4 separate regions of the Homo sapiens genome follow, and all the other regions are reported to be linked to region 4. Evidence: microRNA targets listed by miRTarBase, many of them from high-throughput screens and not tested one by one. Region 4 holds a microRNA gene; each other region holds the end of a gene's coding sequence.

Region 1 (3,096 bases), not on the chromosome of region 4:
TTGATTCTCAGAAACTGAGTGAGCTAATAAGATGTGTGTTGTTTTAGTTTTGGGGGTAATTTGTTACACAGCATACATAACTACTACAGTGTGTGCTTATGGATGAAGTGAAGTTTCATCACTGTTTCTAGACCTTACACTGTTCAACTGGTGAAGATCCATCATCTTGCCCGAAGAGCTAGTGCCAGATTGCAATAAGATGATTTGATAAAATGGTTTCTCTCTTTTCCCTGCCCAGTTACTACCTCATGTCACATGGATGTCTGGGTTCTCCTTACCACTTAGCTTATTTGTCTAGAATATTTGGGATGCAGTTTGAGTGTAGTCTCAAGTGAGATAGAGTGCCACTAGAAGAAGGCTGACAGCCTGGCTATGCAGAAGCCCCAAAGAGTGAAGTTTGCAATAATCTGTCCGGGCTTTGGTTCTCTATCCTGAAGAATCAGAAACTATGTTTCATCAGAATATTTAGAAACTCATAGGCTAAACTGACAAACTTGGGGGCAGAACCACACACACAAAATTCACATGAGACTGACATATAAACCAGAGAATTTCTCTAAATTTACTATGTGCAGAATGAAATGTTGGTGCCCTCATGCAGAATTCTCCCTTTTCCTGAACAACAATAGCTTAAAAGGCCATATCAACAATCAGAAGATGGTTCAGTTAGGCTTGTAATTAGTGCCAAAAGAAGTGGCAAGTCTCAAGGTATGTTCTCCCTAAGCCACATACCTTGGGTCTTGATAAACTAGTCCTAACTGAAGTAGAGAACACTTTTGGTCACTGAATTACTCACATCTCTTGGATGCAGGACTTCCTTTTCACGGATAACACTGTATACACACTGTCATATTTTGTTTCTTCAAACCCCATTTTGGTGAGTTGATAATTTCGGTTTTCTTTTCTCAAATGAGTTAATATCATGTAATAACCTACAGTGTACCTGGGAAGCATTGAGACTCTCCTCACTATGTGTAGACTCTCTGGTGGTTTCTTCTTATCAAGTCCTTAGAAGGTATCTCACTGCTGCCCCACATAGTACCTGTGTAGTTTGGAGAGGCCATTTACTTAGCATATCAGAGCCTGTCCAAAGAGAATACATTAGAACCAGTAAAGAATTTCAAAGACTGTCTTGTAATTTCTCATTTCTTTTATCTAGAAAATTTCCATGATCAACAACATTCTGAACTGATCACCAGGGGGTTGAAAAATGAATAAATAGCAGTTAACAGAAATAGGGTATTTATGTTCTCCTTTTCAAAAGCTCAATGTTTCATCTGCTACAGTATAGTTTTCCAAGTTTAGTCATGAGTATTCTTACCAAAATCATTCCAATTTCGAATGATTACGCTAATTTGCACTGTCAGTTTCAGAAATTCAAAAATATATTTTTTTCTATTCACAATTAAAAATTAAATTTTGAGTCAGGAGTTTGAGACCAGCCTGGGCAACACAGCGAGATCCTGTCTCCACAAAAAGTTAAAAAAAATAAAAAAGCTAGGCATGGTGGCTTATGCCTATAGTCCCAACTACTCAAGAGGCTGAGGCGGGAGGATCACTTGAGTTTGAGGAGGTCAAGTGATCCATGTGAGCAGACTGTGCCACTGCACTCCAGCCTAGGTAATAGAGTGAGATCCTTGTCTCTAAAATAAATAAATAAAAATTAAATTTTGAGAGAATATCTTAGTATTTTAGTATCTTAGTATTAGTCAATATCTACTAATTCAAAAGTTGAGAAGTATGTTCCAGTAAATTTATGCACTTGAATTATTTTAAAAATTTGGAATTATAAAATTCTCAACATTTTGCTCACTACATAGACAACAGAATAATAAAGCTCAATGATTAGTGATTAGCACTATGCTAAAATATTAATAATTTCATAAATTTGTATAATTTCAAAATTTCTTTTAGTTTCATTGTCCTCAGAAACCCAAGAATGCCACTAATTTGTATTCTACTGAAAACATCTTTCCCTGATTACTTTTGTTTTACCAAAAAGAAAAAATTGTACTTTTCTTAAAAACAAAGTGAAGTCTAAATTAATTCAATAGCTACTGAAATTCACCTGAAATTTTAAACAGCTACAAATCCACAAGAGGAAAAAGTAAACACATTAGCTTTAATACAACTAGTACATAATAAAAATTAAGAGAAAAGATTAATTCAAGGAGAAAAACTGATTAAAGTATGCTTACTAAAGGTCCTGTTATCAGCATTTTTATTCAGTTTAGTCTATGCTAGAATATAAATACATGACAGTATGTCTTTTCTTGTCAAGGGTAGCCTTTTACATAACTAAAATTTGTGGCTAGCAGTTTATATAACAAAAGAAAAGCTAAATCTGTAAATTATCAGAAAAGAACCAAGGATATAGGAAAATAATACATTTATATAAATTACAAAGGACAGTTACAATGAAACTCCATTAGTTTCCTCTCAACCCAATTTTACAAAATAAAGTGAACATGTATTATTCTGTGAGTTGTTAAGAGTACATAAACACTGTGGGCCCATTCAAAAGACAGTGGTCAAAGACAAAATGTTATCTTCATGTTATACACTGTTCTTAGTTCTTTACTGGAGTTGAGCTTCCTTTCATAGTCTTCTTTAGGTGGTGGTAATTTGGCAAGATTTTCATCAAGAAATCCAGCTGTAGTGTCTGGGGCTAAAAAGATAAGGTAATTAAGGCCGATTGGCAGAAAGCAAAGTCAAGAGTACCACACAGCAACCAGGCGTGGTGGGTCATGCCTGTAATCTCAGCACTTTGGGAGGCCCAGACAGGAGGATGATTTGAGCTCAGGAGTTCCAGAACAGCCTGAGCAACATAGGGAGATCTTGTCACTAAAAAAATTTAAAAATTAGCTGTGTGTGGTGGCACACCCCTGTAGTCATAGCTACTCAGGAGGCTGAGGTGGAAGCAGGGCGGCAGGGGTGCAGGTGGATTGTTTGAGCCCAGGAGGTTGAGGCTGCAGTGAGCCATGATTACACCACTGCACTCCAGCCTGGGTGACAGAGCCAGACCCTGTCTCAAAGAAAAAAAAAAAAAAGTTCCAGGTAGCAATGGTTATTAATAAGTTGTGGAATTACAGGTGC
Region 2 (3,096 bases), not on the chromosome of region 4:
CAGTGTCTGGAAAATGTGCCCACTGGAGAAATCTATTGGCCGGATTGTGACTGGTTGGATGCTCCCACGGCAGGAAAGGGGGAAGGACAAGTGGCCACGTCGAGGCCTGCCTGAACTCCAAGGGTATCCAGGCCGAGGTTGCTCAAACCCAGAGCTGATTTATTTTTATTTTTATTTGTTTTTATTTTTTGACACAGTCTTACTCTGTCGCCCAGGCTGGAGTGCAGCGGTGCAATCTCGGCTCACTGCAACCTCCGCCTCCGGGTTCAAGCGATTCTCCTGCCTCAATCTCTGGAGTAGTTGGGATTACAGACACCTGCCACTACGCCCAGCTAATTTTTGTATTTTTGGTAGAGACGGGGTTCACTATGTTGGCCAGGCTGGTCTTGAACTCCTGGTCTTAGGTGATCCTCCTGCCTCGGCCTCCTAAAGTGCTGGGCTTACAGGCATGAGCCACCATGCCTGGCCTGAACGAAACATTTCTATGCTCCAACTTAAAATGAATGTAGAACTTATTATCTGAGAATGACCCAGGGAAGTCATGGGACTGCCCATATTTTCATGCAATAAAGGGAAAATTCTTCCCACAAATAAATTTTATAGGACGGTAGAAGCAAATATAGGGCATTCCAATTACATTTCAATGAGTTATTCTTGATGAAGTCCTGGATACACAAAGCCAGCCAGCAAATAGGATTGACCAAAGTCAGAGGATGCTGTGACCACCCCAGGGCTCTTTTTGTTTGTCTGTTTGAGACGGGTCTCGCTTCGTTACCCAGGCTGGAGTGCCGTGGCACGATCTCGGCTCACTGCACCCTTGACCTCCTAGGCTTAAGAGAGTCTCCCACCTCTACCTCCCAAGTAGCTGGGATGACAATCATAAGCCACCACACCTGGCTAATTTCTAGAATTTTTTTTTTCATTTTTTTCATTTTTTTTTCTTTTTAGCCGGAGTTTCACTCTTGTTGCCCAGGCTGGAGTGCAATGGTGCGATCTTGGCTCAACACAACCTCCGCCTCCCGTGTTCAAGCAATTCTCCTGCCTCAGCCTCCTGAGTAGCTGGGTCTACAGGAGAGCACCACCACGCCCAGCTAATTTTTGTATTTTTAGTAGAGACGGGGTTTCACCATGTTGGCCATGATGGTCTTGATCTCTTGACCTCGTGATCCACCTGCCTCAGCCTCCCAAAGTGCTGGGATTATAGGTGTGAGCCACAGCAGCCGGCCATAGGACATAAGCTTTTTTTTTTTTTTTTTTTTTTGAGACGGAGTCTGGCTCTGTCTCCCATGTTGGAGTGCAGTGGCACAATCTCGGTTCACTGCAAGCTCCGCCTCACGGGTTCACGCCATTCTCCTGCCTCAACCTCTCAGTAGCTGGGACTACAGGCGCCCGCCACCATGCCTGGTTAAGTTTTTGTATTTTTAGTAGAGACGGGGTTTCACCTTGTTAGCCAGGATGGTCTCGATCTCCTGACCTCGTGATCCGCCCGCCTCAGCCTCCCAAAGTGCTGGGATTACAGGCGTGAGCCACCGCGCCCAGCCTCAGCTGTGTTCTTAACTCTATTTTTCCTTCACTGGGGATGGTACCATTTCCCCGTCCTGTTAAGTGCCCTTGACTGCTCTTACCTTTAGCTCTTGGAATTCCGCCATCTACCCTAACTTCACCTCCATCTAAATCCTGCTCACTCTTCAAAGCCTGCCTCTCCACGCATCCTCCCTCCTAACTCCATCCCAATGCCCAACAGCTCTTTGCTAAGCAGATGCCTTTATTTACAGACAAAGAAGTAAACAGGCAAAAGGAAGAGGCTTGTCCAAGGTCATGCCACAGACTGAACTCTCACTGGGAGGACAGTTCAGGGTCCTGATACCCAATCTAAGGCAGCAGCTTTGTAGCACATCAGGATGGGGGCAGGTCATGCCTGGCCATGTTCACTTCCAGAACGATTATAGCTTTAACAACATTTTTTTTTTTTTGAGATGGAATCTCGCTCTGTTGCCCAGACTGGAGTGCAGTGGTGTGATCTCGGCTCACTGCAACCTCTGCCTCCTGGGTTCAAGCGATTCTCCTGCCTCAGCCTCCGGAGTAGCTGGGATTATAGGCATGAGCCACCATGCCCGGCTAATTTTTGTAGTTTTAGTAGAGAGGGGGTTTTGCCATTTTGGCCAGGCTGGTCTTGAACTCCTGACCTCAGTTGATCCACCTGCCTCGGCTTCCCAAAGTGTTGGGATTATGGGCATGAGCCACCACGCCCAGCCTACTACAGCTTTAACAGTCTTTTTTTTTTTTTTTTTTTTTTTTTTGAGATTGAGTCTCGCTGTGTTGCCCAGGCTGGAGTACTGTGGTGTGATCTCAGCTCACTGCAACCTCCGCCTCCTGGGTTTAAGCAAGTCTCCTGCCTCAGCCTCCCAAATAGCTGGGATTACAGGCACATGCCACCATGCCCGGCTAATTAACAACATTATTTTTTAATTTTTGTAGAAATGAAGTCTCACTGTGTTGCCCAGGCTGGTCTTCAACTCCTGGGCTCAAACGATCCTCCCACCTTGGCCTCCCAAAGTGCTGGGATTACAGGCATGAGGCACTGCGCTGGGCCCAGAACTACCTTTTATTGGAGGCATGGAGTCCACAGTGGGTGGAGGTCTCAGTGCCTTGGGCTCAGGGGCTCAGCGAAAGGCCGCGGCCAGGCCTAGATGAAGGTGAGGCAGGTGGAAGCGGGGACCCCACAGCTTTCCTTGTGCTCCTCGAAGAGCTGCTCCAGGGCCGTCATGTAGAGGGCGTGATAGTGATTGACTTCCTCCTCGGTGGGGTGGAGGCGCTGGGGGACGGGGATGGGGCGGCCCACTGCAGGGAGAGGGAGACAGGTGGGCGAGGGATCCCTGATGCCCACGCAGCTGCTGGTGGCCGTCCCCCCGGAGGTGGGCACTCACCCACAGTGGTGATGGGCACAGCAAAGGGCAGCAGGCCCCAGGAGGTGGCTGAGAAGAGACCGCGACCCCAGAAGATGCAAGGAGAGAAGCCCATGAGCTTCTTGAAGGTGAGCTGGCACCAATGCTGCCAGGAGCCTGTGGCAAAAGCCTTAAGTCTAAAGATGTCATT
Region 3 (3,096 bases), not on the chromosome of region 4:
TGTCTTGGTAGGAGCTGTGAGGGGCAGTTTTGCTGAGAGGGCGCTCTGTGAGAGAGAAGCCACACTGCAGAGTGTCTTGAGAAAGGTGAAATAAGCAGCAGGTGGTCCCCGTGTAGCTTGTCCGGGTGCCAGAAGTGCAGTGGCCCAGGAGGCTGCTGTGGGAGGCCGTGTGGGCCTGTGCTTAGGTGGTTGTCGCATGTTCCACAGCAAGACAGATGACAACTTGTCCTGGTGTCTTCAGACACTCAGAACGCAGGAGTCATGAGAGTGGCTTTCGTTGAGACCTGCGTGGCCAGCACTCTAGAGGTGGGGCCGACCCCATGCAGTTCTCAGGTTCTTTGTTTCTGGGACACAGCTCTTGAAAGCCCCCGCCAGTGTTTTAAATAAATGGGAGACCTTGCCAGGCTGCTTACGTATAAGACTCCCTTTTACATGGAGGGTGTTCCCTTTTCTTTCAGAGCCCAATGACGAAAGTGGAGCTAACGTGGATGCGTCCAAAATGTGGCGCGATGACCGGGAGCAGTTCTATAAGATTGCCAAGCAGATCGTCCAGAAGTCTCTGGGACTGTGAGACCTGGCCTCGCACAGGCGCGCACACACCGCCAAGCAGCTCAGCATTCTCCCCCGGCACACTTAGTGACAGTGATGCTCTGTGCTGGTACCAAACAAGGCAGACTTGCAAGAACCATGGCATCTTTTTTTTTTTTCAAACCTTTCCTACTTCAAACAGGCTTCTCTTCTGAAATGATGACTTAATGTCGAATATTGACAGCTTACTGCAGTTTTACAGTATTCCTCACAAAGGGCTTCAGGTAGATTATCAGAGCTGTCAGCACTACCTCTCCCCGCTGAAACCAGCAGTTCATGGCTTCCTGTGGATTCCCTCCCTCCCTGGAGTGTTGAGGGGGTTGTACCTGCCAGACTTCCAGGGGACGATGGAATACCCAGAACGCTCCTTCTGAAGAAATGGGGCCCTGTAGCTGCAGCACAGGGGAAGGGCCCGGCACCCTTTCTGGGTCCTTCCTGGTTCCCTGTGGGCCCCATGAGGAGTCCATTACTTCCTTTCTTCCTTCATATTTTACAGGCAGATGCTTTTCTTATAATCTAATTACATCTTTTCATTTGTTATATATTACAAACCATCACACTTAGAAATACTTCCAGGAAATGCTTTTTTGAAGTGTGAATTAATAAGAAATGGGGTAAATAGAAAAGAAATTTATTGCTGATTGGCCAGGTGCGGTGGTTCGTGCCTGTAATCCCAGCTCTTTGGGAGGCCAAGGCAGGTAGATCACAAGGTCAGGAAATTGAGACCATCCTGGCTAATACAGTGAAACCCCATGTCTGCTAAAATTACAAAAAATTAGCTGGGCGTGGTGGTGCACGCCTGTAGTCTCAGCTACTCAGGAGGCTGAGGCAGGAGAATCGCTTGAACCCGGGAGGCAGAGGTAGCAGTGAGCTGAAGTCCCGCCACTGCACTCCAGCCTGGGCAACAGAGCGAGACTCAGTCTCAAAAAGAAAAAAGAAATTTATTGCTGATCACAAGGACAGACAGTTTTTTCCCGACCATACTCATCAAAGATTTACGTTTGTATATTAGTAACTAGTGCATTACTAGAGCAGGTGCAGGTGAGGTCTTTAAAGTTTCAATGAAAGTTTCTTCTGGATCTACAGAAAAAATTTTTTTTTTTCAATCTAAAAACTGGAAATTCTAGGGTTTTTGTACATTTTGGATGCACTGGGAATTTATTAGCACAAAATCATTCTTTGCAACTCAAAATTCAGAAGGGACTCTACCATATCTTAGCTCAGAGCACAGAGGAGTGCCTTATCCCCACACTTGACTGGGCTGTGGAGGTGGGCATGTGGGCCCCTGGGCCCAGGCTGGGGACAGAGCCCTTGTTTTGTGACTTAGGATTTTGATGTGGTTCCCATGTTCTCTAACAGGGCCAGCTGAGCAGCACAGGCCAGGAGGCCACAGTGTAAGCAATAACAGATCTGCCACATGCAGAAGCAAATATCAGGCCTGTCGCACACGGGCGGCATTTAAATAGGAATTTCTATTTTTGAAATAAGGGATGGTCTATGAGGCATACAGTAGATTTGATGTGATCCTTTTCTCCCTCCCTTCCATAATGGATCGTGGTCTGTGTGACTGAACCCACACAGAGTGTCATGGGTGACAGTTTCTGGTTGAAGTAGCTCCACGCCTGGCTTCTGTGGACAGCAGATTCTTTTCCTTCTCACAAGGGGCTCATTTAAAATTTGGAGGCTGGGTGCTGTGGCTCACGCCTGCAATCCCAGCACTTTGGGAGACTGAGGCGGGCGGATCATGAGGTCAGGAGATCGCGACCATCCTGGCTAACAGTGAAACCCTGTCTCCACTAAAAATACAAAAAATTAGCCGGGCGTGGTGGCGGGCGCCTGTAGTCCCAGCTACTCTGAAGACTGAGGCAGGAGAATGGCGTGAACCCAGGAGGCGGAGCTTGCAGTGAGCTGAGATCACGCCACTGCACTCCAGCCTGGGCAACAGAGTGAGACTCTGTCTCAAAAAAAAAAAAAAAAAAAATGGAACGCAGGGCAAGAACTCGTATTTGGAAGGAGATGGGGGAAAGGAGCGGTATTATACCTATGTTGTATTTGCAGGCAAATGAGATGGAGCCCTCTCTGTAAAGAAGAGTCATTTGTGCAAGTAGACGGGGTCTGTGGGTGCAGGCCCTGGAGGGGCACACAATTGCCTGGAGGCTTCTGTGAGATCGGGAGAGGGAGGAGAGGCAGTCTCTTGACAAAATAAAGTATTTTTATTCATTTGTATTTATTAAATGAAAAAACAATCCCATGGTGTCCCTGTTGTGTGGTGGAACCTAATGACTGTTGAAATAAAGTTCTGTGTTTTCCCTGCCCTGCAGTGTGTGTCCCTTTGTCGTATTGTCAGAGGAGCCTGTGGCCACTGCCCCCAGGGAGCACACCAGATCATCCCAGCTGGGATTCCTCACGGTGGGGGCTTTTCTGCAGACTTGGGTTAGCTCTGGCATGTTTTCTTCTGTTTCTGATCTCCCTTCTGTCATTCTGTGGTCTTCCTCTGGAATTCTCAGG
Region 4 (3,088 bases):
GGGAACATACTCTGAGTGATCATACTATGAGGTTGAGGAAGGATTCTGGGCAGAAGGATGACAGCATCTGACAGCATCCATTTAAAACTACCATCTGGCTGTGGCTGAAAGTGACTGAAAATGACAACATAGAAACAGGGAGAACAGGAGGCTGCTGCAAAATCCAAGCTGATGATGATGCAGCTTGGACCATGGTGGTAGCAGTGAGGGAGAAGAGAAGCGATCAGGTTTCACATGCATACTGAACGTGTAGTCAACAGGACTTGCTGACAGATTGGATGTGGATTGTGAAAGAAAGGAGATGAAGGATGACCTTAAGGCTTTTGCCCCAAGCAGCATCATGGCTGGGAGGACTGCTGGAGGAATGGTTTTTGAAGGGAAACATCAAGCACTCAATTTTGGACATGTTTAAGTTTGAGATGCCTATTAAACATCCAAGTGGAGATACAAAAGGTCAAATAGATACACATCTCTTGATTTTAGAGAGAAGGCCAGGTCAGGGACAGAGGTAGTATCTAAAGCCTTGAGAGTGGATGCATGCACCTAGAAAGTGAGTGCAGAAAAAAGAAAGAATAAAAGAAGTTCAAGTGTAAGGATGAGCCCTGGGATATTTCAATCATGATGACAATAATATGTGCCAGGCACAGGCCCCTTATCTGCAGGGGCTCATTTGCCCCTTACATAAATGCTGCAAGTTAAGTTCTCTCAACCTGACTTGATGGAAGGGGAATCTGTTTCACAGAGCTGGGTCATCTGTTCAAGGGCACACAGGTGGTTAAGAGCTAAAATCTATCCGACAAAGTTTTCTTTCCTCTAGCAATCTAACTTATAAACCTTGGTATTATCCTTTGTCTTCCCTTCCCCATCCAACCAGCCTTTGATTTCTATCTTCACATTAAGCTTTAGTACAGGGCATCCTAATCCTTTGCCCTGAACAATTCCTCCTGCCTCCTAATAGGATTTCTTGCCATGAGACTCTCCCCTGCTCTAGTTCATTCCTTGTTTCCTAAAAATAAAGCTGATTGGGTCAACTTCCTGTTTAGACCTTCCATTCATTCCCCATAAATTCTAATCCAGCTCCTTAGCTTGGTAAACAGGAGCCTTCACAATCTGGCTCCAAGCTCTTTTGTGTCTCAGTTTCACATACTGTTGTTGCTTTTTGGTGCCTATGCTAGGCTTAAACAGCATGGGAACAAAAAGGCAACTGCAGTACATGATGTCAGGCACCTGATGGTGTGAGCTGTGTCTTGTTCCACATCTCAGGGGAAAGCTTTCTGCTTGTCACCATGAAGTACCATGTTTGGTGTAGTATTGTTTTACACGCCCTTCATCACATTACAGGAATTCTTTCTGTAGATGCCAAGAATGTATCATTATTATCATGAATTGATGTCAACTTTTATGAAATGTTTTTCTGCATCGACTTGGCATCATAATTTCTCTCTTTTGATTAATCACTGATTTATTTTCTACTCTTAAATTAACCTTATCTTCCTTGGATAAACCCAACTTTGTCTTCATGTGTTAACCTCTTTAAAATATATATATATATATATTTCTGGATTTGATTTGCTAATATTTTGTTTAGCACATGGCCCTACAGTTTGTACAGTGGCCAAGGGGAAGCACTTTTTTTGGAAAGGTGGCCAAAAGCAAGCTGATAAGTAGGAGCAGTTTGATTTCCCCTTCTGCCTGGAATGAGGGCCTCTGTGTGGACAGCAAGGATTGGGATGGAAGGGACATCCAAAGTTCTCTATTATTATAGGAAAATACAAATTTTGTTATTGAAAACATTCATTAAAAAAGAACACTTTCATATTCAGTACAAAATTTGGTACATACATGGTACAAAAACTGAAATAGATCTCATTGCTAAAATTCAAAAGTTTTAATAGCAGGGAAATAAAAGTCTATAAATGAGCCTATATATATATATGTTCAGCATGCCAGTTCACCTGACATAAAAATAAATAGAGGGAAGAAGTCCCCAAAACACCCCTTCAGGAAGCTTTTTTACATCACCTCCATGTATGACCCCTTCTCTGTGACTTTGATTAGGCCAAGGTTGATAAGAACAGTCTTTTCCAGTTCCAGATAACTCTCATAGTCCATTTTTAATTCAGCCTGCATTTGTTCTTTTGACTTCTGATATGTTTTCTGGGGGGGGAAGAAAAACAAGACATCCCTATAAAACACTGATATCTAAAAATACCAAAGGATGAGAAGGGGCTGTTTGTGAATAGTTGACCTGGCTGCTGTTTTCTGGAAAGGGCTGGATGGAGGGCAGGAAGGCAGGAGGGCAGGTGGGCAGGAGGCAGTCAGATGTGCTGGGAAAGGAGGGAGTGGGGGGAAACATGGTCCCCAACCACTGTCTCTCAAAAAAAAGTCCCTTTTTCCGGCCTTCTTCCCTATAACTCTTGTTTCCCTTATGTAGACTGGAGGGTGACTAATAGCCTAGAGGTTGCAGAATTCTTTTGAAATCCCCCTCTTCTGAGTCCATATGGATGGCATAGCTTGTGGATCACACGGCAATGACTACTGTCCCAGGCTGAGTCTCCAGCTGAAATTCTGGTTAGGAAAATTCCCATTTCATATGCAACTAGAGCAGTGATTATTATTGTCCATTGAGGAGTGAGCTGTTTCCAGATTTTATGTTTGCAAAGAGACAGGTGCATGATTTTCCTGAAATCTGTGTTGAACTGTACAGCCTCAACCTGGCACCTGGTGAGCACTCACACAGGCCAGCCTTGCTGGACGAACATGTGAACACTTTCTATGTGCCAGTTATTGGCTAAGTGCTGTAAATATTTTAACTCATTTAAGCTCCATTGCAATCTTCTGAGGTTGTTACTGTTGCCATTTCCCCCTTTATCAGCCGTTGCTTAGAAGGAGACATTTCTGACTAACATTAGTTGTTTTTCCTTAGTGACTTTTTTTATGTTCTCAATGTAACAGAGGAACCCTTTCAAATTCATTCACATACCCACAATCTATTCATAGTTGCAGAGAAAATTTGAGAAGTGGTGGCTTTACTTAAAAGAGGGCACCATATCAAATGGAAATAAAGTTACAAGAAGTTGGGAACGTT

What was found. The annotated mature microRNA hsa-miR-4423-5p reads AGUUGCCUUUUUGUUCCCAUGC and lies in region 4 at 1,185-1,206, opposite strand. An mRNA with a match to its seed (bases 2 to 7 or 8) in the 3' UTR can be bound and repressed. Matches are read on the target gene's strand: a 7mer-m8 pairs with bases 2 to 8, a 7mer-A1 pairs with bases 2 to 7 and ends in A, and an 8mer does both.
Region 1: miRTarBase lists DCTN6 as a target of hsa-miR-4423-5p. The part of its 3' UTR that is shown has no 7-base or 8-base seed match.
Region 2: miRTarBase lists MOGAT3 as a target of hsa-miR-4423-5p. Seed matches in the 3' UTR shown: 7mer-A1 at 2,495-2,501, 7mer-A1 at 2,318-2,324 and 7mer-A1 at 1,991-1,997.
Region 3: the mRNA of UBE2G2 is a reported target of hsa-miR-4423-5p. Seed matches in the 3' UTR shown: 7mer-A1 at 1,489-1,495 and 7mer-A1 at 2,526-2,532.

The regions. Positions count from the first base shown.
Region 1 is chr8:30,182,647-30,185,742 of GRCh38, reverse strand. It overlaps DCTN6 (dynactin subunit 6), which reads right to left. Exons shown (of 7, transcript NM_006571.4): 7 at 2,104-2,668. The coding sequence ends at 2,570. Among named protein-coding and RNA genes, the nearest start is that of DCTN6-DT, 28 kb to the right of the region's middle.
Region 2 is chr7:101,193,260-101,196,355 of GRCh38, forward strand. It overlaps MOGAT3 (monoacylglycerol O-acyltransferase 3), which reads right to left. Exons shown (of 7, transcript NM_178176.4): 6 at 2,928-3,096; 7 at 1,748-2,841. The coding sequence ends at 2,687. Among named protein-coding and RNA genes, the nearest start is that of MOGAT3, 6.2 kb to the right of the region's middle. RefSeq lists an enhancer at 2,412-2,912.
Region 3 is chr21:44,768,852-44,771,947 of GRCh38, reverse strand. UBE2G2 (ubiquitin conjugating enzyme E2 G2) reads left to right here. Exons shown (of 6, transcript NM_003343.6): 6 at 459-3,096. The coding sequence ends at 571. Among named protein-coding and RNA genes, the nearest start is that of UBE2G2, 31 kb to the left of the region's middle. RefSeq lists an enhancer at 2,423-2,923.
Region 4 is chr1:85,131,924-85,135,011 of GRCh38, reverse strand. It overlaps MIR4423 (microRNA 4423), which reads right to left and starts at 1,218; the gene lies at 1,139-1,218. It overlaps DNAI3 (dynein axonemal intermediate chain 3), which reads right to left. Exons shown (of 23, transcript NM_145172.5): 23 at 1,874-2,157. The coding sequence ends at 2,014.